Homo sapiens: one gene and its partners. The protein of the gene in region 1 purifies or fractionates together with the protein of each later gene. This does not show direct contact. Each region holds a gene or a part of one and is shown in the gene's direction. Other genes may lie near its edges. The genes, in order: DEPDC1B, PRP4K, DDX50, RPRD1A, SIPA1L1, SRSF12 and MOB2.

Region 1 (3,500 bases):
TATACATTTTCACTGAAATAACTTTCATCTTTGTAAACTTGGTATAAATAGTTCATTCAAGTAGAGAGAAAAATTTTTTTTCTAGAAACTGCTTAAATCTTTGAACTTATTCTGAGTTATATATATGGTCTGATGCAACTGATAAATTTTAAAAGACATACAGCTTTCATTGAATCTGAGAGTTAGAATGGCAAGATCACACAACGAGGTTGTGGCAAGTGCAAGTAGATCTAGGAGTGGTTGTCACTGAACTCCCAGACCAGTCAGTTTTCTTTATAGCACCGCTATCATAATATTTTTGGTACTAAGAAGAAATGAAATGGAATATCCTGGAGAAAAGAACAGGATGCACAGCAGTAGGTGTATGTCTTATAGTTTGCCTCATCATGTTAAGAAAAAACAATTGTGTGATTTTATTTTTTCCTGAGAAACTAGGGGACTGAAATTAATAAGTAGAGCAAAACAAAAAGTGTTTTAAAATCATAAAACAAATCTGTTTTGTTCCATTTGTTGTAAAGATTCTCTTCAAATATAATGTCATGAAAAAAAAACTCAAGCTCTTTCTTGTTATTTATTGACAGAGGATATTTTGTTTCCAAAAGTGACTGAGAATGGTATATTGTTAGATTATTTAAAGATACTTATTTTTCTTTCTGAGCAGAGTAGCCAAATAACCCCTTAGTTATATTTGGAAATAAGTGGGAACAGAGACCAAAGTGACCTCAGTAGGCTTTAAAAAATCTAAAGTATTTCATATATTAAGGAAATATAACCCATAATGATAAATGCCATTCAAAATCAAAATGAGTAAATTCAAAAGTCTATTTATAAATGCTCTTTTTAAAAGGGGCAATGAGACTTTGATAAAGATGTTTTATTAGACATTTTCTAGTATGAAATAAAAGTCAGTAGCAATAGAGCAGTTAATCCATTCTGAATCCTAATGGATTTTTTTTTCCTGTGTGGGAGAATGCAATGAATTGAAAGCTCATGCTGAAGAGTAAAATTCTGAGAACTGAAAAAAGTTTTCCCTCACAAAAAGAAATGAACTTCACAAAAAGAAATTTTCACGCTGGGTGCGGTGGCTCATGCCTGTGATCTCAGCACTTTGGGAGGCCGAGGCGGGTGGATCACGAGGTCAGGAGATCAAGACCATCCTGGCCAACATGGTGAAACCCCGTCTCAACTAAAAATACAAAAATTAGCTGGGTGTGGTGGCACATGCCTGTAATCCCAGCTACTTGGGAGGCTGAGGCAGGAGAATCACTTGAACCAGGGCGTCGGAGGTTGCAGTCAGCCGAGATCACGCCACTGCACTCCAGCCTGGGCACCAGAGCGAGACTCTGTCTCAAAAAAAATAAAAAAAGAAAGAAGTTTTCACATTCCCTTACAAAGAAGACAGGGGCCTTGTCCTACCAGGGATTTATACTTGGTATTAATTGACTGTAATGACAACTGTATGGTATTACACAGGAACAGATAGTCGCTCAGTGGGATAGAAACAATCAAGAAGTGTGATATGTAAGGTTACTTAATAATATTTCTGTTCATTTAGAAAAGCATGGCATAATTGACTCTTGATATGGTTTGGACGTTTATCCCCTCCAAATCTCATGTTGAAATGTAATCCACAGTGTTGGAGGTGGGGCCTAGTGGAGGTGTTTGGGTCACTGGGGCAGATCACTCATGAATGGCCTGTTGCTGTCCTCATGACAATGAGTGAGTATTCACTCTGAGTTCATGTGCGATCTGATTGTTTAAAAGTGTGGCACCCTGTCCCTCACTCTCTCTTGTTCCCCCCTTGCTGTGTTATGTGCCTCCTTCTGCCTGCTTCCGCTTCACCTTCTGCCTTGAATAAAAGCTTCCTGAGGCCTCACCAGAAACTGAGCAGATGCTGGCACCATGTTTCTTGTACACTCTGCAGAACCGTAAGCTGATTAAACCTCTTTCCTTTATAAATTACCCAGTGTCAGGTATTTCTTTACAGCAACGCAAGAATGGACTAACACAACTCTCCATCCAGAAAAAAATAGAGATCCCCTGCCTCCCACCATATAAAATTCAGTTAAAGGTTTACATATTAAAAAACATACCCTCTAAAATATTAAAAGGAAATTTTGATAAATATTTTAATACCTCAGGATAGGGAAGCTTTCTTAAGAGAATAAACCCTGAACTGATAAAGAAAATAGATAATTATTTCCTTATAAAAACATCAACATCTACAACAAAATCATTGTATAGCTAGAGACTATGTAAAGAAATTGATAGGCTAAGATAAAACATTTGTAACATATAACAAAAAGGTTTAATATTCTATATTCATCAGTACATATTAAATGGGTATACTATATGTCAGGCACTGGTCTTTGTTGTGAGGATATTGAGCTGAACAAAATCGATTAACTTTCCTGACTTCTGTGCCCTTTAAACATTAACAGATTAAACAGTTCTTAAAATTGATTTTAAAAAAGAGATAACCCAATAGAAAAATGGCAAATCTCAGAAGAAGAAATGAATATGACTAAAGGTAAAGATATGAAAATGCAAACAAAATATGGATCTATCATTTCTTTTACATAGATTGGCAGAAATGAAAGAAATGATAACATCTAGTGTAGGCCAAAGTGTAAGGCTTTAGGCTCCCACATTGTTGGTGGAAGTGTGAATTGCTACAACTGATTTAAATATGCTGATACTTTTTAGAAGTCTATCAAAAGTAAACAAAAGCCTTGGTACTTTAGGTTATATAAACAAGTATAACTTGTAACATATTTGTAAAAATTGAACTGGGCAGAACTTGGATGACCATTTGTTAGAAAATGGCAGAATAAATTATGGCACATTCTTAAGAATGGGCTAGATCTGCAGGTATGACGCAGGGAGGTATCTGTTAGGTGCAAAAGCGTGTTTTAGGATAACATATACAACATGATTGATCTCATTTTTTAAAATGGCAAACAACAATAAATGACACACCTACAAAGGAAAAATTCTGTCTATGTGTCTGTATGTGATAGGTATGGAGTAAGACATGCAAACTCTTTTGTGTATACTTCTGTATTTAATTTGTTTGTTTCAATGAGTGTTATTACTTCTGTAATTAAAAGAACAACAGAACTGCTAACCAGACTGGGTCAATTAGTGGATATACCTAGTGATATTTGGAAATATTGGGTCCCAGAGAGCCATGCCTTCATTATGTTTATGTAATGCATAAGGTATTATGCATTAGGTAATTTTAGTTCATGATTATGATTGTTCAACCAACATAAACAAAAATCTTTTTTATTACCCCTTCCCCCGGCCCTACATACTTGATTATGCCTTTTCGGTACAACAATCTAATGATAAATGAAAGCTAGGTATCAGGGCATGTATTAAAAAAATCAATAATCAATGATTAAAAATATGTGAAAATTGTTTAAAGGTATGGTAATATCCATAGGTACTTGGTATAGTGAAATGACTACTTGAAGAAAAGTCCGTAGCACAGGATT
Region 2 (3,500 bases), on another chromosome or scaffold:
TAATATTTTTTAGACTTGAAGTGATTGCTAAATTTGGGATCATATAGCAGCTTCGGATGAAGAATATTTTGTTTTTGTCCAAGTTTATTCTGAATCACCCTTCTGCTTTCATTGCCATTGTAATTCTCTGGCAACTGAAAGTTAAGTCTGATTCCTTAGTTATAAAACTTGACTTTATTCAGGTATTCAGGGTCTTTTTAGAAGATGCTTTGCTTCATGAAATTAGATTTTTCTCTCAGTACCCCACCCTTTTAAAAATGCAGTTGTTAAAATTAAATGTACTTTGTGATATCCATTTCCTCACTGAAAACAGTTTTTACTCATTGTAATGAATATTTGATACATATTAACTTTTCATAGTTAGGAAATTGAATTAAAAATAAATAGAAAAGGAATTTTTAAATGAATGTCTTTGTTCTCAGTATTGGAATTAATAAAACTTTTCAAAGCCAATAATTTTTATTTATTTGTATTAATTATTCCTGGCTTGAATTAAATTCCCTTGAAAAAATGTTTTGCAGGTTAATGAATCCAAAACTATTTTAAAGCTTTGCGATTTTGGGTCGGCTTCACATGTTGCGGATAATGACATAACACCTTATCTTGTCAGTAGATTTTATCGTGCTCCTGAAATCAGTAAGTTTCTTAATGTTCTTTGACCTGGGCCATCATATGTGGTGGAAACCGCATACTTAATGTCTAAGCACTGTTTTCCATCACACTTCAGCAGCTGCACGAGTTCATTCATGAGGAAGGGAACCATAGCAAGTTCATCCTCCTCAGGTGGAATGAAGGTAGTTGTGACAGGAGTCTTGATCATGTCGGGCAAGAGTAGCAAAACAGTTGTGGAAAATCCTCGACTTTAGAAGACTGCTCTTGATTATTCAAGGTCTGATTATCACATTTATGGATTGTATGGGACCTTTGTTTTTTCCTGTTGCCTTGGTTGAGGCTGATTAGCACCTCCACCAAAGGCGAAATGAGAAAAGAGAAGAAATACATATTTTCTTTTGCCCTTTAAGTTCCTCCCCTACACCTCCATTTTTTAAGGTTTTTAAGTTTGAGTCTCTATTAAGAATTAGTGGGAAAGAACACAAAACTAATTGTCAAACTAAGGCATGAAGATTGTGGTTATAGTCCAAGCTAAGGTAGCCAGCCCCTCATTAATGGAAATAAAAATTAATAGTCGTCAGTTTTCTCTATCCTCGTATATTAAAACTTTGATTTTGTTTTCAGTTATAGGTAAAAGCTATGACTATGGTATAGATATGTGGTCTGTAGGTTGCACCTTATACGAACTCTATACTGGAAAAATTTTATTCCCTGGCAAAACCAATAACCATATGCTGAAGCTTGCAATGGATCTCAAAGGAAAGATGCCAAATAAGGTAAGACATTAGCATGAGCTTCTTTAAGGTCTTAGTTTCTTATTAACTGACAAGACTGCTGACACTTGCTCACCACTAGTGAGCTATAAAACAAAAATTTCAGAAAGGTGGGTAGATGGCTATCATGATTTCTTAGGGTCTTTCCCTTTTCTGGTGTTTTAAATTAGTGGTTCTAATCAGCCAAGCGCTAAGGATAAGAGAACTTGTTCAATGATGGACAGAGAGCAGCAATATTTTGGGGATACACCCTTATGGGTAAAAGTTTCAAAATGTTTGGAAGACAGAATGGAAAAAGATGTAAGTTGAATTAGGTAAAATACAAGAACATGCTTAGTGGTCAGAGAATGAATAGGTGAATATTAGATATTGTAAGAGGAACTTGATGTTAATTAATTTATTAAAGATTGGAGGTTATTTGAGAAAGTAAGGTACCTTTCTTGGTACCTTTTCTTATTTAATATCTTTCTAACTCACCGCTGATACTTCAGCTATAATGCTAGTTTCTGTTTAACATGAAGCAAGAATGTAAGCATTTATTAAAGTATCTGAGGGCCATAACTTAGCTTTTTTTTTTTTTTTTTTTTTGAGACGGAGTCTTGCTTTGTCGCCCAGGCTGCAGTGCAGTGGCGCGATCTCAGCTTACTGCAAGCTCTGCCTCCCGGGTTCATGCCATTCTCCTGCCTCAGCCTCCCGAGTAGCTATAGGCATGAGCCACCGCACCCGGCTGTAACTTAGCTTTTTAAGATTTCAGCCTATTTGCTGAATTTCTAAAGATTTACACATTTTTCGTAAAGGTCAGAAAACTGTATGGTTTTCAGTTGTGTTTTGTTGTTGTTGTTGTTTTGAGACTGGATCTTGCTCTGTGTCCCAGACTGGAGTACAGTTATAGCTCACTGCAGCCTTGAACCGAACCCCTGGGCTCAAGCAGTTCTCCTGCCTCAGTCTCCAATGTAGCTGGGACTACAGGCATGTGCCACCACAACCAGTTAATTTATTTAATAATTTTTTTGTAGAGATGGAGTTTCACTATGTTGACCAGGCTGATTTGTACATATTGTCCAAATTCTATTAGGTTGGACTTTTTTTAGAATAAGTTACATAAAAATGAGCTATGTTGGTATTAGTTTTAATGAAGTCTGACCTGTATCAGGGCTGTTGGAACATAATTAGTAAAGTGGCATTAGGTTCCCTAACTGCCAAGGAGAAAAAACCTGAGTTTTGTGATATTTTTAGGAAGAAATAATTTAAAGTCTTTGTTGACTCTCCAATTTTAAATAGTGAAAGGACAATTTGATGTTATAATTGTTTTAAGTCACTGCCTGGACAAATATAATTTCATGTTATTAAGTAGTTTTAGGTACAGCATTGGTATTTGCTTTTGCAAAGATGTTAATGAATTCCTGGGATCAAGGGAATCTGAGATCAAACAAACCTACAGAGACTAAATAACATACTTATTTGACTTATTGTATATTAATTAAATTGTTAGTAGGCCTGTTTCATAATAGTTCAAAACCCAAGTTTTTGTTTTGTTTTGTAGATGATTCGAAAAGGTGTGTTCAAAGATCAGCATTTTGATCAAAATCTCAACTTCATGTACATAGAAGTTGATAAAGTAACAGAGAGGGTAAGTGTTTTAAATGCAGCATGCAATAGTTATTTTATTGTTAACTGAGTACTAAATCATACGAGCTGGTGAATTAAAAAAAAAACAAAAACCCAAAAGTAAGTATTTCCTTTTTGCTGTCGACCAATTCCTAAATAAAACACATCAGACCATGGAAAAGATGGAGGGATTTTAAAATGTTTTTCTAGCATAATTAATTTATTTTTATTATAGGTCATATTTAGGCCCTCGTCACATCTTCTTTGGATTACTTTCTTGGTCTGGCTTCCCATCCAGCTTTCTTATTGCTGCTAGAGTGATGTTTCTGAAAACATATCTGGTCATGTTCCTATCCCTGCTTAAAAACCTTTGTTGGCTCCCTGTTACCTATGAAATAATATTTAAGTTCCTCAGAATGACAAATCCAACTGCTTTCTTCAGTTTTCAGACCTCTCTTCAGTACATTCAGAACCCCCACCTTTCCACATTTGGCCAGAAGGCGTGCT
Region 3 (4,286 bases), on another chromosome or scaffold:
AAAGGATGTGGAAAACCGCAGATCTAGAGATGCATAGCTATTCTCATAACCTAGGAAGAGAGGTGGATTTCTCCGTCATCAATAGCTGAACACTCCTTGTGTTTCTAAGTATTGAATCCATAAAGTTACATGCAAACATACAGCCCTTGCCTTCAGGCCAAGCCGTAGTTATGCAGAAGGCTTGAAGCAATCACAGATTTAACATTTGTGGTTCCAGCTATTCAGGACCAATTCCCAAACTCCACGACATGTAACAATTTGTAATTTTGCTAGGACACAGTTTGATGCTTAGGTTTTAAGGCTGGTGTGCTAGACGTTATCAAGTGGTTTGTGAGAGTAGCCCTGTGTCTCCATTGGGTAGAGTAGCTGGGTCGCAAGGATCATGAAGAGATGAAGAAATGGCTGTGAAAAGCCAACTAGCCTCGGTGATAGTAAGCAAAGGTATAGAAACACTAAGGAAGTTACCCTTTGTATTGTCAAAGGTTTCAGTTTTGTGTAAGGTGGTGATTCACGGGCAGTTAATCTCCATCACTAAAATTAAATCCTTTTTTATTCATTGCAAATAGATAATCTGTGGAAGACATTTTGGCTTTTCTCGCTAGCAGAAAATGTGAGGCTTCTTCAGGTTTTTCCTGTTCATTGTTTCACGGGAGCATCTTCCCCAAAACACTGCAAAACTCAAAGTTCTCAGGCTGATGTGGCAGAAAGAGCATTGATCTCGGCTTCAGGAGCTAAATTCTCTAGTCCTGACTGTGCCACTAACAGACTGTGGGACTTCAGACAAGTACATTCCTTTCTCGGGTTTCTTATGTCAAATGGACAGCGTGAGAAGGATCACAATGAACCAGGGATCAGCTTCACGATTAAAACCTAAGACTTAAGAGACGGACATCTGTCCGTTCCTGGCTACACCTCCGGCCCATCTGGCCCACCCCAAACTGCGCGAAGCCCCTCTCCACCGACGCCAGGCCTGTGGCCTCGCGCGAAGCTGTTGGTCGTTAACATCTCCCCCGCAATGGGCGGGATGGAGGGCTTCAGCTTCCGGCTGCAAATGGCGAGGCGGCGCGCGGCGTTGCCCACTGGCCTCGGCATGGGCCTGCCCACGCACCCGCCCAGCGCGCGCCGGACCCTGTCTACCGCCGTTGAAGGGCTTCCCAGCCCTAGCAGTGCGTACTGGGAAGCCCCCAAAAGGCTCTGCGAGGCCGAGGAGACCCGTTCGGAGTGGGGGAGGGGAAGATAAACCGAACTATTTATGTTAATCAGTGCATGCTTCCTTTATGGAGATTGGCCAGGGTTTTACTCTAGTAACCAATCACTTCAGAACAAGGGCGGGCCCGTTGATATCTCTCACACTCATTGGTTGAGAGGTTGCGGCGCAATGGAAGGTCTTAAACCGAGAGTATCCGGGATTATTTTTCCCCGCCGTGCGGTGCGTGTCCCGGAAGTGACGCATGGCCAAGGCCGGGCGGCCGCCTTGCCCCCGCTTCCTTTCACGCTGTCGCTGCCCGTAGGTGGTTGTGGCCACTGTGCCCGGAGGGAGGCGGCGGTGGCCAGTAATGCCTGGGAAACTCCTCTGGGGGGACATTATGGAGCTGGAAGCACCCTTGGAGGAGTCCGAGAGCCAGAAGAAGGAGAGGCAAAAGGTGCGCTGAGCATGGGCCGCGCCTCCTTTTGGGCTGCGCCGGCTTGGGCGGGGAGGGGAACTGTCTGTCCCTGATGATGGCCTGTCAGAACCGGGCCGGAGCATCCGAGGGCCTCCCTTCGCGCCGCCCTCGGCCCTCTGGGGTCGCTCAGGGACCGTTTCCACCTCCACCCTCCCGACCTGGAGAAAGATGGCCCTGGGCTTTGGGCCTCTCCTCCGCGTGGCCCCTCAGCCCTTCCCGTTGGCGCCTGAATCTCAGATGGGCAGACTCAAGCTCCCATCACCATGGAATCTGTTCTTTCTCTCCTGAAGCAGTGACGCTTGCCATTTCGTTTTCATTGGCCCTCTTAGAAGATGATTAAGAAAAAATGATTGCTTTGAATATGTGTTGCTTCTGTCACCCCGTCCCCTGTGCAAGAATCCTGGGGAAAGCGATCTTAGGTTTACAGACCTCAATAACTAGTCTGTAGAGGCTTAAGGAAAAGTGTCACTGAGACTTGCCAGGATTTGTCAGTGATGGAGATCGTGTGGGTTGCATTATTAATAGCCTTTACTGTCAGTATTTTCATTCAATCCGCAGGTGTTTATTGAACCTAATTTGTACCATACTCTTTGCTGAGTACCAAGGAGGTTAAACTAAATAAGTAAAGAAATGGTCTCTGCTCTCAAGGAGCCTGTAGAGGAGTTGTAGTCTTTCCTCCTCCCAGCCCCCTGCCCTCCAAAAAAAAAAAAAAAAAAAAAGGAAAAGAAAAAACATCCTGAAACACTCAGAGGATCACAAGGTGCTGAAAAAATGCCCAGGTAAAATTATTACTGGAGACATTTGACCTGGAAAAAAGAAATCAGCTGAAGAGGCTAAGGTGGCAGTATTCGAAGGCTGACATTCGACAAAAGAATGAGACTTATTTTGTATAGCCTTAGAAAGCAGAATCTACCTCTCTGACCTTATCACTAAGGTAAACTTGCCATTTCAGCTAACACTTTTATTGTGCTAAAATACACATAACGTTTATCATTTTAACCATTTTTAAGTATATAGCTCTGTGACATTAAGTATATTTACATCGTTTTGCAGCTGTCACCATCATCCATCTCCAGAACTTTTCATTGTCCCAGACTGAAACTCTGTGCCCATTAAACACTCACTTCTCATTCCTCTCTCCTTCCACTCCCGGCAACTACCATTCTACTTTCGCTCTGTGAATTTGACTACTGAAGTTACCTAGAGTGTAAGCAGAAAACCAAGCAGGTATTTTAAAAAAGGCTTCTTTTGAAATTCTTGTCTTTTGCATCCCAATCCTGTCCAGCGGTCAAGGCCTAGTTTATGTCTTTCCTGACAACCCGAATGTACCGTTATCTAGTTTCAGTGGCTATCTTCATCATTTGATTGACATTTGTTATGCATGTCTATATAAAATTAGTTCATTTTTCCTGTATGTATCCCACATATTTCCCAAAAGTTCTTGAGGAAAGTGACCAAATCTTTATCCATCCTTATGTTTCACTATGTTGTTTTAAATTGGTGGCTTTCACATTGTAAATTCTCCAGAAATACATATTGACTGCCCTTTAACTATGAAAGATAACCAGAGATTTGGAAACGAATTGGAATACCAACTAAAAGAAATAGAGCATTAGAATACAGGTCTGGTGGCTAGCTGCAGTGGCTCATGCCTGTAATCCTAGCACTTTGGGACGCTGAGATGGGAGGATTGCTTGAGCCCAGAAGTTTAGGTAGAGTTTTGTAGAGACCCTGTCTCTACAAAAAATAAAAAAATTAGCCGGGTGCGGTGGCTCATGCCTGTAATCCCAGCACTTTGGGAGGCTGAGGCAGGCAGATCACCTGAGGTCAGGAGTTCAAGACCAGCCTGGCCAACATGGTTAAATCCCATCTCTGCTAAAAATATAAAAATTGGGCCGGGCATGGTGACTCACTCCTGTAATCCCAGCACTTTGGGAGGCTGAGGCGGGTGGATCGTGAGGTCAGGAGATCGAGACCATCCCGGCCAACATGGTGAAACACCATCTCTACTAAAAATACCAAAAAAGGCCAGGTGCGGTGGCTCACGTCTGTAATGCCGGCATTTTTGGAGGCTGAGGCAGGTGGATCACCTAAGGTCAGGAGTTCGAGACCAGCCTGGCCAACATGGTGAAACTCCGTCTTTACTAAAAATACAAAAATTAGCTGGGCATGGTGGCACATGCCTGTAATCCCAGCTACTCAGGAGGCTGAGGTAAGAGAATCGTATGAACCCGGGAGGCTGAGGTTGCAGTGAGCTGAAATCGCACCACTGCACTGCAGCCTGGGTGACACAGCGAGACTCCATTTAAAAAAAAAACCCAAAAAACCCAAAAATTAGCTGGGTGTGGTGGCGCGTGCCTGTAATTCCAGCTACTCGGGAGGCTGAGATACAGGAATTGCTTGAACCTGGGAGGCAGAGGTTGCAGTGAGCCGAGATCGCACCATTGCACTCCAGCCTGGGTGACAGAGCAAGACTCCGTCTCAGAAAAAAAAAAAAAAAAATTAGCTGGGCGTGGTGGCAGACGCCTGTAATCCCAGCTACTCGGGATGCTAAGGCAGGAGAATTGCTTGAACCCAGGAGGCAGAGGTTGCAGTGAGCCAAGATCACGTCATTGCACACCA
Region 4 (3,500 bases), on another chromosome or scaffold:
AGAGTGCTGATTGGTGTGTTTACAAACCTCTAGCTAGGCACAGAGCACTGATTGGTGCGTTTACAAACCTTGAGCTAGACACAGAGTGGTGATTGGTGCGTTTACAATCCTTTAGCTAGACAGAAAAGTTTTCCAAGTCCCCACCTGACCCAGAAGCCCAGCTGGCTTCACCTCTCAATGGCACTCGCCGCGGGACTTTGCGGCACCTAGCTTGGGCACTCTAGCAGCCCAGAGGGAGCTCGTCCCCCATCAAGCCCAGCAGGCACCCACCCGGAACCGCGCGTAGCCCAGGCTCCTGCCGGCGCCTCTCTCTCTACACCTCCCTGAGAGCAGATGGAGCCGGCTCCGGCCTCTGCCAGCCGCAGAGAGGGGCTCCCACAGTGCAGCAGCGGGCTGAAGGGCTCCTTGAGCACGGCCAGAGCAGACGCCGAGGCCGAGGAGGCGCCGAGAGCGAGCAAGGGCTGCTAGGACGTTGTCACCTCTCAATAGGAGAAAGCTATCTAATATTTAATGTATTTAAGAAAATGGTGCAAATGTGGTAAAATTGTAAGATGTGCTTTTAGCAAGGTTTGTGATGTTTCCATATGTTTAAGTGTTTCATAAGTGGAAAACGTTAAAGCATATAAAAAGATGCTTTAGGAGGAGGGTGGTAGTGATGATAGTGTTGATAGTAACGGTGATGCTGATGAACATACCGCTGCCGCTTTAATCCTCATATTAGCCTGGGCTACTCTGCCAAGGGTTTCCTTTTCTTGACAGATGACTGCTTTTGCAGGGTGTAGCCTTTGTGTCCTTCCCCTTTCCTGCAGTTTTGCTCATCAACTTCAGGATTCTCATCTCCTGTAGTTTAATGATAATGGCAATCAGTTACTGAGTACCAGACATTCTTTTAGTTATTTTACCATATCTTGAATCACATTATTTCTGCAGAATAATTATGAAAGGAATCGATCAATCTTGAAAGTATATTACAACAAACTAAAGAAAATTAGTTGAACATTTTGTGTTAAGCTAGGCATTCTTTAGTTTCTCAAAGTGTGTAAAGACAAAAATGTGAGAGTGGGAGAAGCTACTGTTTAAAATAAAAGAATGAGCTGGGTACTGTGGCTCATGCCTGTAATCCCAGCACTTTAGGAGGCTGAGGGAAGTGGATTGCCAGAGCTCAGGTGTTCGAGACCAGCGTGGTCAACATGGCAAAACCCTGTCTCTACAGAAAATACCAAAATTAGCTGGGCATGATGGCGCAGGCCTAAGGAGGCTGAGGTTGGGGGGTCACTTGAGCCCAAGAGGTTTAGGCTGCAGTGAGCCAAGTGCGCCACTGCACTCCAACCTGGGCGACAGAGCAAGGCCCTGTCTCAGAAAACAAACAAACAAAAAAATATAAGAATGAATAAGTAAAATTATATATGTTAGATAATGGTAGCCATTCAGTTATGAAGGTTTCCCTTCTTTTCCTACCTTCCTTATCTTTGTCTCCTTTAAAGAAAGAGTTTCTGTTTGGAGGGATAAACTTCAAGGCCTTTGTGAAGACCAAAATGGCATACAATTTTCCTGATAAATGCAGTAAAGTGTAACCAAAAATGTAAGTGACCATTTTGTTACTTCTTTATTAAGATGTAATTCACATACCACACCTTTTATCCATTCAAAGTATACTATTCAGTGGTTTTTGATATGTTTATAGAATTGTAAAGCTACCACCAGTTTTAGAACATTTTTATTACCCAGAAAGAAACTCCATGCCATTTAGCTGTTGTCCCCAGTCCCCCATCTCTCCCAACCCTAGGCAACTGCTAATTTACTTTGCCTCTATAGATTGGACTATTTTTACCATTTCATATGAATAGAATTATATAGTATGTGGTCTTTTGTGTGTTTTCCATCCATGCTATAACATGGATGAGCCTGGAAAACATGTTAATTAAAAGAAGCCAGTTGCAAAAGACCACTTACTGTCCTTCAGTCTTTTCTATGGCCGAATAGAATATTGTATGAATTTAGCCATTCATCAGTTGATAGACGTTCGAGTTGTTTCCGCTTTTTGGCTATTATAAATAATGCTGCTGTGAGCACTCCTGTACAAGCTTTTTTTTTTTGTGGATATGTTTTCATCTTGGATACTTACTGAGGAGTGGAATTTCTGGGTCATATGGGAATCCTATGTTCAACCTTTTGAGGATCCACCAGGCTATTTTCCACAGTGGGTACATGTTTTTTTTTTTTTTTTTTTTTTTTTGAGACGGAGTCTCGCTCTGTCGCCCAGGCCGGACTGCGGACTGCAGTGGCGCAATCTCGGCTCACTGCAAGCTCCGCTTCCCGGGTTCACGCCATTCTCCTGCCTCAGCCTCCGGAGTAGCTGGGACTACAGGCGCCCGCCACCGCGCCCGGCTAATTTTTTGTATTTTTAGTAGAGACGGGGTTTCACCTTGTTAGCCAGGATGGTCTCGATCTCCTGACCTCATGATCCACCCGCCTCGGCCTCCCAAAGTGCTGGGATTACAGGCGTGAGCCACCGCGCCCGGCCATGTTTTTAAAATACATTCCTACAAGCAGTGTATGAGGGTCCAGTTTTTCTACATCCTTGCTAATATTTGTTATCTTTTTGATTACAGCTGTCCTAGTGGGTATGAAGTGGTATCTCATGATTTTGATATGCATTTCCCAGATGACTAATGACACTGAGCCTATTTTCATGTACTTATTGGCCATTTGGATGTTGTCTGGAGAAATGTCTATTCTGCCTATTTTAAAATTTGTCTTTTTATGATTGAGTTGTAAGTGTTCCCAATGTATTCTAGGTACAAGTATTGTATTAGATTCATACCACAAATATTTTCTTCCATTCAGTGGGTTGTCTTTTTACTTTCTTAATAGTGTCCTTTGAAGGTGACTGTTTTAAACTGTAAATGTCTCAGTCAATACTAGGCTAAATTTTAAAACTTAATATACATCATTAATTTATATTCATTTCTGTAGAAATATTGACCATGAACATACCTGAACTTAGAAACCAACACTAACATTTGGGCTCTTTTCTACACACACTCGCTGAAAGATCTCTATAAGAGCTGTACAAAACAAGATAGATAGGAGGAAATTCTTTGTAGTTGGTGAAGGTCACTGCCTTCCCTAGTCTAGTGATTGTATCCTTTGTACCAGCCTCTTTTATGTTATATTGGTGTCTTAACAAAACTGTAAGTGCCTCAACCCCTTAAAGTATGTTTACTCACCCTGTATTTATTGATTGTGTATTACAATGGTAAAGAAAACAAAGGGAAAACAGTTTATCCCTGCCCTCAGAATTTATAGTCTTGTGGTAAGGGCAACCAATAAACAAAAAATTTTAAATATAAATTTCGTGTTTAGTTCTTTGAAGGAGGAAATCTTTAGTTAGAGGGAAATCATCTCTGCAAGGTGACGTTTAATAAAAGACCTCTTTGAACAAGTTGCGGGGGTAGGGGGGCTTGGGCCTGCAGCCACTGGGAATATGTGAAAGTGCT
Region 5 (3,500 bases), on another chromosome or scaffold:
TCTTCAATTTTATTTGAAAGATGCATACTCTCTGATGATGCCATTTCTATTCCAAGAGTTCAGAAGAAACCGATTTTTTTATTGTTTCCCTAATACTAAGTATAATTGCATAATTTGTTCACTTTTAATTTGGAAAGAGCGATCTTCGATGTGTTAGAATCATTTCCAGTCATGTCAAACTTTACTAAAATCTTGGGAAATGATATAAAACACTCAACCTCTCTATTTCTATATCAACAACTTCCTTTGTTGTTTTAGGAGAAACTTACTTTTTTTCCTTTTGAGGTTAAAAATAATAAGTTATTACAAATGTTCATATGATCCTTTTCTTAGGCCCAATTTTAGGAATATATAGTCAGAAGAAATGACTGGAACAGGCTTTCTTATATCAATCTTGCTTAAAGGAATGGGAGAAGGAAAATATTTTTCTTAGAAATAGATTATCAGAATAAAATACCAAAAGGACCAAGGAATAGCTCAGTTTAAAAATATGATTTTAAAGCGTTGTTGCTATTACATAAAGATTCTCATACTATTACTCAGATTCCAATTTTCATTTTAAAATTATGCTTTTAATCTGGTTGCATAATGCCTCACACTTAGGCCAACAAATACTAGTTAAGTTTTATTGAAATTTAATTCATTTCTTTTATGGCATGCATCTTCTGATATTTTCAATGTAAGCTGTCTGCTTATAGCCATCATATCTAAAATGGAGAACACATTTGTGTTCTCACAGAATGTATGCTTGTTCTGAAAGATGATGTGGTTACAGTAACCTCCCTTGAAAACAGTTAGTAGGTATTTAAAATGTCTTACACAGAATATTACAGTAAACCTATTTTTTTTCATGGAGTTTTGGTCAGTTTCCTGTCTGGTAAAAAAAAAGTTAATAGTGTTAGCTTTTGGGATTTTGGGAGGTTTGTTTTTGGCCTAGAAAAAAAATTATGTTGTGTAAATCCTAAATGCGGTAGAATGAAAAAATATACTCGTATTAAGCAGAAATGTGTGTTGTTTCTCATGGAAAAATAAGCAGCTATTTTGTATCTGAGGTACATCTTTGTCTTTGAGAAAGTATATTTTATTCTGATGTTGTGAGACTGAGAAATACTGACGTGGCTCTCTTTGATCTTTGTCTCTCAGTGTGGCTGTTACCAGGTCCAGAGATGTGCCTTCCTTTGGGCCTCCCATTCCTAAAGGGGTCACTTTCCCTAAGTCAAATGTGTTCAGGGACTTCCTTTTGGCGAAAGTGATTAATGCAGAAAATGCTGCTCATAAATCGGAGAAGTTTCGGGCCATGGCAACTCGGACCCGCCAGGAATACCTGAAAGATCTGGCAGAAAAGAATGTCACCAACACCCCTATCGACCCTTCTGGCAAGTTTCCGTTCATCTCTCTGGCTTCCAAGAAGAAGGAAAAGTCTAAGCCATATCCAGGAGCCGAGCTCAGCAGCATGGGGGCCATTGTATGGGCAGTCCGGGCTGAAGACTACAACAAGGCCATGGAACTAGACTGCCTTTTAGGGATCTCCAATGAGTTCATTGTGCTCATTGAACAGGAAACAAAGAGCGTGGTCTTCAATTGTTCCTGTAGAGATGTGATAGGGTGGACTTCAACTGACACCAGCCTCAAAATCTTCTATGAACGAGGAGAATGTGTTTCAGTGGGTAGTTTTATTAACATTGAGGAGATCAAAGAGATTGTCAAAAGGTTGCAGGTGAGTCTCTCCTTCCTCTTCCTTACATGCAGTTTCTCTTTCATAAAGTTTTCAATACAGACTAGAGCCAAGTTACTGAACCTTGTGCTCTGTTATTAGCTCCTCTGAAAACTCCCTTGATGTGTGAAGCAAACAGAGTTTATCTCATGCTTGTGTTTTCCATGGATGTTTCGGAAAAGTAGAACAAATTGGGGAAGACACATTTACTCTGTGTGTGTGTGTGTGTGTGTGTGTGTGTGTGTGTGTGTGTGCGTTCATGTTCAAAACCCATTTGCATGTGACCTGTTCCCTGGTGCTGCAGTCCAGTCATCTGGTGGTGGTGTTGAAAAGAATTGCTTGAGTATCTGCTGCCTTGAATTTTACAAAGGCTAAATGAGTAGCAGTATATGGTTTCTATTTACTGCCAGCTCCCTGTAGGTCTCTGGTAGAGGTTTCCTTGTAACTTCAGGGAAGCCGTTGAGCTTTTTGGATGCAACAAGTATATTCCTTTTGGCCTAATGAATAGGAGATTAGTGAAGAGGAAATAACCAGACTGCTCTTCAGCTGGCAATAAGGTATTCAGAACTAACCCTGCTTGCAATGATTTTCCAGTTCCATGTCCACCACTTAATACCCTATTGCTTTAAACCACAGTATCTTTTATTTCCTTGTCTAGTTTGTTTCAAAAGGCTGTGAATCGGTGGAGATGACTCTGCGAAGAAATGGGCTAGGACAGCTTGGCTTCCATGTCAACTATGAGGGCATTGTGGCGGATGTGGAGCCCTACGGTTATGCCTGGCAGGCAGGGCTGAGGCAGGGCAGTCGCCTGGTGGAGATCTGCAAGGTGGCGGTAGCCACTCTGAGCCATGAGCAGATGATCGACCTCCTGAGAACATCTGTCACGGTGAAGGTTGTCATCATTCCCCCGCATGATGACTGCACCCCGCGGAGGTAGGTCTGAGGAGACAGCTGTGGGCCTGAGACTCGAGTGCAGGGTTTGTGTACCATGTAGAACATCTCTTAGCAGGTAGTGGAGTAGGGTGTTGTGAAGAACAATAGGTTACATGTGATGCTGAATGTTTCATCCATGGAGTCTGACTCAGGACGAAGCTCCCTTTCAGTGTGTGGTGACAGCAGCTGGAAAGAGTGACTAAATGGGACCATTCCCAGGATTTACATCACTGGATTTATAAAGTTGCCATGACAGATAGAGAAGTCTGGTAATATCTATCTTAAGAATTTTCCACTGGGAGCTGAGAAACATTGAACACATTGAACATTAAAAGACACTCAACATCTCAAATTGTCAGATTGCTTTTCTTCTATGTTCCATGATGCTCTTATTCTCTTCTCTCTCCTAATTGCTGCCCAAAACTCAGCAATTGTTTGGACCTTTGCTGTCTCAGTCTGGCAGCTGCTTTCCTAACTGTATCTGCATGTGCTAGGGTTTGGCTTCAGGTGAGCTGCCCCTGCTCATGGTGCTTTGGCATTTTGGTTCCTAGTCTTTTCCAGAAGGGAAAACCTAAGAGCTCCCTGCCCCACCCAACCCCCCACAGCTCCTGCCAAGCCAGCAGCACTGTTGAAAATTTAATTTCTCTGTCTCTGGGGAGGTTTATTGGTGGAAGAAATTTAATCAACTGTTTATTTTCTCCTTTGGACATGCACATGCTATTTTTGCTAGTTTTTAAGATCTCTCTTTTTAGTTTATGCCATTATTTTCTAAGAATTTCTCTTAAGCTTTGGCAATTGATTCTTAGGCTTTCTAAAGCCAAGACAGTGTTCTGTGTCCTATTTTGCCACTAAG
Region 6 (3,500 bases), on another chromosome or scaffold:
TAAAACATCCATTTTTCTTTAAAGCCTGATAAATAATTTTAGGACTTCTTTAGAATCTAATTCTTGCTATCTGAAAACAAGATTAACATAAACATGAAATTAAAGTGAAGCAAAATGAATGTGTTCTTAGTGAAACAATTACTTATTAGGTCTTATAATAACTTTCAGAGGTGGATATGCTGGGTCAGTGTTTCTGGAAATTAAGCATAACAACCACCTGGAGTGCTTGTAAAGATACAGATTTCCAGCCTCTAATCCATACTTCCTGAATCAGAACCTCCAAGAGAGGTCTGAGAATCTAGGGAGGTTTTTTTCGTGTTTTCTTTTTTTTTGAGACAGGGTCTCACTCTGTCACCCAGGCTGGATGGAGTGCAGTGGTGTGATCTTGGCTCACTGCAGCCTCAACCTCCCCATGCTCACTCAGGTGATTCTCCCGCCTCAGCCTCCCGAGTAGCTGGGACTACAGGCACACGCTACCACACCTGGCTGATTTTTGTATTTTTTTGTAGAGACGGGGTTTCACCATGTTGCCCAGGCTGGTCTTGAACTCCTGGGTTCAAGTGATCCACATACCTTGGTCCCCCAAAGTGCTGGGATTACAGGTGTGAGCCACCACACCTGGCCTGAGAATGTTTTTTTCCTTTCTTTTTTCCCTTTCTTTCAAAACCTTGCATGATTCTTACAAAAAACAATTTTAGATAATGCTGGTCTAGATGATGTTCTTTCTTTTGAAGGTTTCAAGTGGATTTCTGTAGGCAAAATATTTTAATCCAGCTATTCATATTTCTTTGCCTTATTTCTAAAACACTTCAGGCCTGAGGACTTGCGCCGTGAGTTTGGTCGATATGGCCCTATAGTAGACGTTTACATTCCACTTGACTTCTACACTCGCCGCCCAAGAGGATTTGCTTATGTTCAATATCCTTTATTTTATTGTGTGCATGTGAATATACTGTATATGCGTGCTTATACATATATGTATTCAGTAGCATATGTTATGAGATTAATATTGCCTAATTAAATGTGTTTATTTCTTTATCTCAGAAGATCTAAAGCAGTCCACAGTAGCTGGCAAGCACCCCCCAGTTTGAACCAACCTGTTAGCTAGAATCCAAGCATAAACCCAGCAGGCGAGACAAAAGGCACCTAAAGTTCAAGCATCAAGGAGTAAAGAGGGAGGGTGGACACAGATATAAAGACCTGGAAGAGGGGAAGTCTTTATCAAGCAAAAGACAAAGCCAACACCAGGTTGAGACTTCGGCTTTCCTACATTTACTCAGAGTTCCAGAGTCAAAGCCAAGTCTGATTTTGTTGGTTCTGCGTCTCTTATAAAGTCCATCTTGCAAGCCTTAAAGAGTAAAGGTCAAGGTTCAAGATCAAGTGACATTGAGGTAATTGCCAGTCTCGTTTTATATTGTGTATCTTGAGCTTTTTCTGTTTGTTATTTTTTTAATTAAACCAGTGAACAACCTCCTAAAAAAAGTTACTTATTTTTATATAGCTAATTTCCATTATAGCTAGGTTTAATATTATATAATTTATATACATAAGGAAGTTTAGTGGGATATTACAAACCAGTATATGTAATTCCAGATATTTACAGATTGCTTTTATGTTTCTTTTATATTTATATCCCAAGTAGTAAAAACATAAATGTTTGGCTGGGTGCGGTGGCTCATGCCTGTAATCCCAGCACTTTGGGAGGCTGAGGCGGGTGGATCACCTCAGGTCAGGAGTTTGAGACCAGCCTGACCAACATGGTGAAACCCCGTGTCTACTAAAAATACAAAAATTAGCCGGGTGTGGTGCCGGGCACCTGTAGTCCCAGCTACTTGGAAGGCTGAGGCGGGAGAATCTCTTGAACCTGGGCTTACAGTGAGCTGAGATCGCGCCATTGCACTCCAGCCTGGGTGACAAGAGGGAAACTCCATCTCAAAAACAGAAAAAAACATAAACATTTAAAGTGGTAGGTTCAAAAGTAGATACCATTTTTAAAGCACTAAATCCGGTTTTGTTTTAACTCACTTGTATATGTGCAGTTTTGTTTATAAGTAATCTCTCTTAAATGTCAAATTTAAAATTAAGCCTTTTAATGAAAGAGTAATTTTAATTTCAGAATAAAGGCTTCTGCATGCTGATATTCAGTGAAAAATCTGATGGATCCTTTATCTGAAAGAAGGGAGTGAGTCCTAAACAGTTTGTAATTTTATAATGCTAGCCAAATTTGGACTTTTTTTTTGTTTTTCTTGTTTTCAAATTATACATGCATACTGCAGCCACACTATTGTAGACACTAAAAGTACAGTTACATGTTTGTTTTGTTCTTTTTATTTTTAGACTCACTCTTCTAAACATAATGGGTCATTTGTTTTCATGAGAAAAAGTGAAAGTTTTTTTTCTGATTATTCATATTATATTGAAGATGTGAGCTTAATAACTTGAACTTGATTTTCCTATTAATTTCATTTCACATGTAAATAATGCTTTTAAAATATGTTTACTTGATATCTCATGTTCAAAGTGTCCTTAACAGCTAGTCATATTTGAAGATGTTCGAGATGCTGAAGATGCTCTTTATAACCTCAATAGAAAGTGGGTATGTGGCCGTCAGATTGAAATACAGTTTGCACAAGGTGATCGCAAAAGTAAGTGTGACTGAATGCTAGATTTTATTTATTCAGCAGAATGAGTTTCAGTGATGACTGATTTTTTAATTTAAAATTCTTTCAGTAAATGATTGCTAGTTGAGTGGTTGTTACTGTGGTGTTCAGGTAACGAATTATGTCATAAGTCTTGTTCTTTATGTTCCAGCACCAGGCCAAATGAAATCAAAAGAACGTCATCCTTGTTCTCCAAGTGATCACAGGAGATCAAGAAGCCCCAGCCAAAGAAGAACTCGAAGTAGAAGTTCTTCATGGGGAAGAAATAGGAGGCGGTCAGACAGCCTTAAAGAGTGAGTATAAGAGGACTGAAAATTTCATTTTCTACTTTTTCTGGGAAATAGATATATATTTTTTTGATAGGGTCTCATTGTTTCCCAGGCTGGAGTGCAGTAGTGTGCGATCATGGCCCACTGTAGACTTGACCTCCTAGACTCAAGCAATTTTCTCACCTCAGCCTCCCAAGTAGCGGGTACTACAGGTGTGCACCACCACACTGGGCTAATTTTTTTAATTTTTTGTAGAGATTGGAGGTCTCGCTATGTTGCCCAGGCTGGTCTTAAATTCCTGGGCTCAAGTGTTCCTCCCACCTCAGGCTCCCAAAGTGCTAGGATTACAGGTGTGAGCCACTGCACCCAGCCTGGAAAATATTTTAAAGTTTTTATAAACAGTCCACCTTAGTCATTTTGCTTAATGTACAAACATAATCAATTTTTGTTAAAAGATAACACTCTTCTCTATTTATCATATATTGTTATTTAACTTGGGTTTATGGGATTAATTCTTCTGTTAAAGTTACAGACTTAACTTTATCTTTTTACATGAGAAGATAATATATAG
Region 7 (3,500 bases), on another chromosome or scaffold:
CAGAATTTGTGAGACATAACTCAAGCAGTGCCTAGAGGGGATTTATAGGATTAATGCTTTCTTAGAAAAAGAAGATGACTTTCAGTAATCTACGTTTCCAACTTAAACTAGAAAAAGAGCAAAATAAGTCAAAATCAAGGACAAGAAAGTAAATAAGAACAGAAAGCACTGAGATTGATTTTTAAAACAATAGGGGAAATGAGTGAAATCAAAATGTGATGACTTTGAAAGGTAATAAATTGGTAAGCCTTTAGTAGGTACAAAGATAAGAGAGAAGATGCAATGATCAATAAAAAGGAGTGAGTGTCACTAAACCCTGTGGATGTAAAGAGGAGTATCACTGTAGACCCAGTGGATGTTAAAAGGATAATAAGGAAGTATTGGAAAAAAACCCTCTGTGCACATGAATTCTATGGCTTGGGTTAAATGGACCAACTCTTTGGAAAGCGCAGTATATCAGAACTCGCCTAAGATAGGCAGTGCCATAAGGTAAGAAGAAAGAATAAAAGGCATCCAAATTGGAAAAGAAATAAAACAATAAGCCCCCCTTATCTACAGTTTCCGTTACCCACAGTCAACTATGGTCTGAAAATAGTTAATGGAAAATTCCCGAAATAAACAGTTAATAAGTTTTCAACTGCATGCTGTTCTGAGCAGTGTGATGCGGTCTCCACCGTCCTGCTCCAGGTGTGCCTCCTCCTCCCTCGGCCCAGCTGTGCCTCGGCCCCCGTGTGGATCCACTGCCGCAGTGCCAGGGTGCTCGTGCTCAGGTTGCTCTTATGTGACATGAGGCGGCCCAAAGCGCAAGAGCGTGATGCTGGCAATTCAGATATGCCAAAGAGAAGACAGAAAGCACTTCCTTGACCTAAAGATGAAAAGGTGAAAGTTCCTGACTAGAAAGAAACAGATTGTGTGTGAGGTTGCTAAGATCTAAGGTAAGAACAAATCTCTTCTTTATGAAATTGTGAAAAAGGGAAAAAAAGTCCCTTTAATTTCGCTGTTACATCTGAAATTGCAAAAGTGACAGCCACAGTGCGTGTTGAGTACTTGGATCTGTGGGTGGAGGAGGTGAGAGGATGGGAGCAGCAGCGTGTTGCCATTGAGCCTGCAGGAGGCCAGCAAGGGACCCCCTGATATGCGACCCCAGCCACTCACTGCAACTGATTGTCCTCAGTTTATGAATTACACTGGGTGTGGTGGCTCACACCTGTAATCCTGGCTACTCAGGAGGCTGAGGCGGTGGATCACTTCAGGAGTTCGAGACTAACTTAGCAACACAGCGAGACCCTATCTCAGTCAATCAATCAAGTCTGCCTGTCTTTATTTTAGTAATGTATGTATAGGAGAAAGCGCAGCATATATAGGGTTTGGTGCTCTCTGTGGCTTCAGGCATCCCCTGGGGGTCTTGCAGTGCATCCCCTGTGGATGGGGGGGATTGCTGTATCCCTGTGCACACGTGTGATTGGGAAAACCTCAAGGATTGTAGCAAATAATAATATAAATTTAGTGAGGTCAACACGCACAAATCAGTCATAGGTCTGTATATTAGCAATGTGAAATTTAAAACTGAAATTAATATTTAACATGCCATTTATAATAGCTCCAAAAATAATGCGATCCTTAGTTATAAACTTAACAAGACATTCCCAGGATCTGCACCCTGGAAACTACGAAATGCTGTTACAGAAAATCGAAGGTCTACATAAATGGAGAGACGCACTGCGTTTATCACCTGGAAGATGACTCCAAACACAAATTCTCCCCCAAACTGATCTGTTGATTTAGTGCAGTCTCAATCCAAATCCCAGCAGAGTTCAAGTATAGACCAGTTAGTTCTAAAATTTATATGGAGGGACAAATTAACTGAAATAGCTACAATGATTTTGAAAAAATAAGAGGAATCTCACACTTTTGAGACTTACTGTGAAACTCTAGTAATTAAGACAGTGTGCAGTGTTGAAGGAATGGATACAGAGCTCCATGGAACACAGTAGAGTCCAGAGATAGCCCCACACAAACGTGTGGACGGAGAGTCCGGAGACAGCCCCACACAAACGTGTGGATGGAGAGTCCGGAGATAGACCCACACAAACGTGTGGATGGAGAGTCCGGAGACAGCCCCACACAAACGTGTGGATGGAGAGTCCGGAGATAGACCCACACAAACGGGGCCATCAGAGTTTTGACAAAGAGCAAAATAAATTCAAGGGAGAAAGGGTAGTCTGTTCAAAAATGCTGCTGGGAAAAGCAGTCATTTGTGTCAAAAACCAAACGCTGACCTATCCCTCATGCCTCGTGCAAACATCTAAAACTCCAAAGCTTTTGGAAGAAACCATAGGAAATCCTTATGACCTGACACTAGGCAGCAAAATTCAGAACTTTTGCTTCAAGACACTTTTAAGAGAAAGAAGACAAACTCCAGGCTGGGAGAGAAAACATTTGCAAATCACACATCCCACAAAGGACTGATATCCAGAATACATAAAGAACATACACAACTCAGCAGTAAGAAAACAAAACAGTCCAGTTAACTGTCAGCAAAAGAAATGAGCAGACAGTTTGCCAAAGAGGGTGTAAGGATGGCAGCTGGGGCTATCCTGTGTTGTTAGCAATTAGAGAAAGGCAAGCCGAAACCATGGGCAGACCCATGTCCACCTGCCCACATGCCGGTCGGGACACTGGTGCTGGCCAGGATGTGGCCACCTGGGACTCTGTTCTGCTGGCAGGGACACAGGTGAATAGATGAGCACGCCATGTCCATCTCTGCAGGGGCAGTGTCTGGGCAGTGAGGAGCCGTGGACTTCCGACACGTCTGCCACGTGACTGCATCCCAGGGGCCTCCGTGCAAGAGGGGCCCAGATCGGGAGGATCCGCGCGGTGCGATTCCTTCCCGCGGCCCATCCCTGAGGAGCCATCCCCGGGGTGCTGGGGGCACAGCAGCACGGGTGTGAGGGGCCACGTAAGCCGCCGCGTGTCCTGATTGTGGTTATGAATGCGTGAGTCCACATGTGGATAAAAATCTTAGAACTATATACCAGAAACGGTTTACTGATAATTGAAGAAGTACAGGAAACAGTGGTGTTCCATCTTTCAGAACAGATGGGACAATCCACAGTGTCCCTGAGTTACTGCTTTCTCTGGGTTTGCATTGTGGAAAAGGGTTTCCGTCTCTAACCTCCACTGTTTTGAGACCTGTCGCACACCTGTGGCCAGGTGCATCAGATGTCAGCTTGCAGTGTCAGGGTACCTGGAGCCAGTGTCTGACTCCTGCAGAGTGCTGAGCCATCCTGGCTGGGTCCTCGCCCTGGAAACATGGGCCTCAGCCTGGCCCTTAGGGGCTGGGCCTCCCCTACACCATCTGGGAACCCCAGGACAGTGGGGATACGTGCGTCCTCTACATCATTCTCGAGGAGCAGATGCTGAAAGGACTGTTGTCTCTGCATTCTCAGAGGGTCTGACAGCCTGGTGGCGATGCCCACGGTGAGGCCTGCAGCCTGGGA

What was found.
Region 2: the proteins of DEPDC1B (region 1) and PRP4K purify together in Homo sapiens (affinity purification with mass spectrometry, with the first as the bait; one large-scale study listed by BioGRID). This does not show direct contact.
Region 3: the proteins of DEPDC1B (region 1) and DDX50 purify together in Homo sapiens (affinity purification with mass spectrometry, with the first as the bait; one large-scale study listed by BioGRID). This does not show direct contact.
Region 4: the proteins of DEPDC1B (region 1) and RPRD1A purify together in Homo sapiens (affinity purification with mass spectrometry, with the first as the bait; one large-scale study listed by BioGRID). This does not show direct contact.
Region 5: the proteins of DEPDC1B (region 1) and SIPA1L1 purify together in Homo sapiens (affinity purification with mass spectrometry, with the first as the bait; one large-scale study listed by BioGRID). This does not show direct contact.
Region 6: the proteins of DEPDC1B (region 1) and SRSF12 purify together in Homo sapiens (affinity purification with mass spectrometry, with the first as the bait; one large-scale study listed by BioGRID). This does not show direct contact.
Region 7: the proteins of DEPDC1B (region 1) and MOB2 purify together in Homo sapiens (affinity purification with mass spectrometry, with the first as the bait; one large-scale study listed by BioGRID). This does not show direct contact.

Annotation. Positions count from the first base shown.
Region 1 is NC_000005.10:60,693,667-60,697,166, reverse strand, and holds part of DEPDC1B (DEP domain-containing protein 1B), read left to right. Parts: intron 1-3,500.
Region 2 is NC_000006.12:4,055,800-4,059,299, forward strand, and holds part of PRP4K (serine/threonine-protein kinase PRP4 homolog), read left to right. Parts: exon of another isoform or gene 1-453; intron 454-521; coding exon 522-636; intron 637-727; exon of another isoform or gene 728-889; intron 890-1,236; coding exon 1,237-1,388; intron 1,389-2,928; coding exon 2,929-3,015; intron 3,016-3,500. UniProt on the Homo sapiens protein: Serine/threonine kinase involved in spliceosomal assembly as well as mitosis and signaling regulation. Connects chromatin mediated regulation of transcription and pre-mRNA splicing.
Region 3 is NC_000010.11:68,899,829-68,904,114, forward strand, and holds the start of DDX50 (ATP-dependent RNA helicase DDX50), read left to right. Parts: upstream 1-1,486; 5' UTR 1,487-1,556; coding exon 1,557-1,643; intron 1,644-2,227; exon of another isoform or gene 2,228-2,598; intron 2,599-4,286. UniProt on the Homo sapiens protein: ATP-dependent RNA helicase that may play a role in various aspects of RNA metabolism including pre-mRNA splicing or ribosomal RNA production.
Region 4 is NC_000018.10:36,061,060-36,064,559, reverse strand, and holds part of RPRD1A (regulation of nuclear pre-mRNA domain-containing protein 1A), read left to right. Parts: intron 1-3,500. UniProt on the Homo sapiens protein: Interacts with phosphorylated C-terminal heptapeptide repeat domain (CTD) of the largest RNA polymerase II subunit POLR2A, and participates in dephosphorylation of the CTD by RPAP2.
Region 5 is NC_000014.9:71,669,976-71,673,475, forward strand, and holds part of SIPA1L1 (signal-induced proliferation-associated 1-like protein 1), read left to right. Parts: intron 1-1,143; coding exon 1,144-1,717; intron 1,718-2,372; coding exon 2,373-2,647; intron 2,648-3,500.
Region 6 is NC_000006.12:89,104,572-89,108,071, reverse strand, and holds part of SRSF12 (serine/arginine-rich splicing factor 12), read left to right. Parts: intron 1-813; coding exon 814-918; intron 919-1,044; exon of another isoform or gene 1,045-1,391; intron 1,392-2,116; exon of another isoform or gene 2,117-2,182; intron 2,183-2,521; exon of another isoform or gene 2,522-2,541; coding exon 2,542-2,645; intron 2,646-2,811; coding exon 2,812-2,953; intron 2,954-3,500. UniProt on the Homo sapiens protein: Splicing factor that seems to antagonize SR proteins in pre-mRNA splicing regulation.
Region 7 is NC_000011.10:1,473,280-1,476,779, reverse strand, and holds part of MOB2 (MOB kinase activator 2), read left to right. Parts: intron 1-3,500. UniProt on the Homo sapiens protein: Stimulates the autophosphorylation and kinase activity of STK38 and STK38L.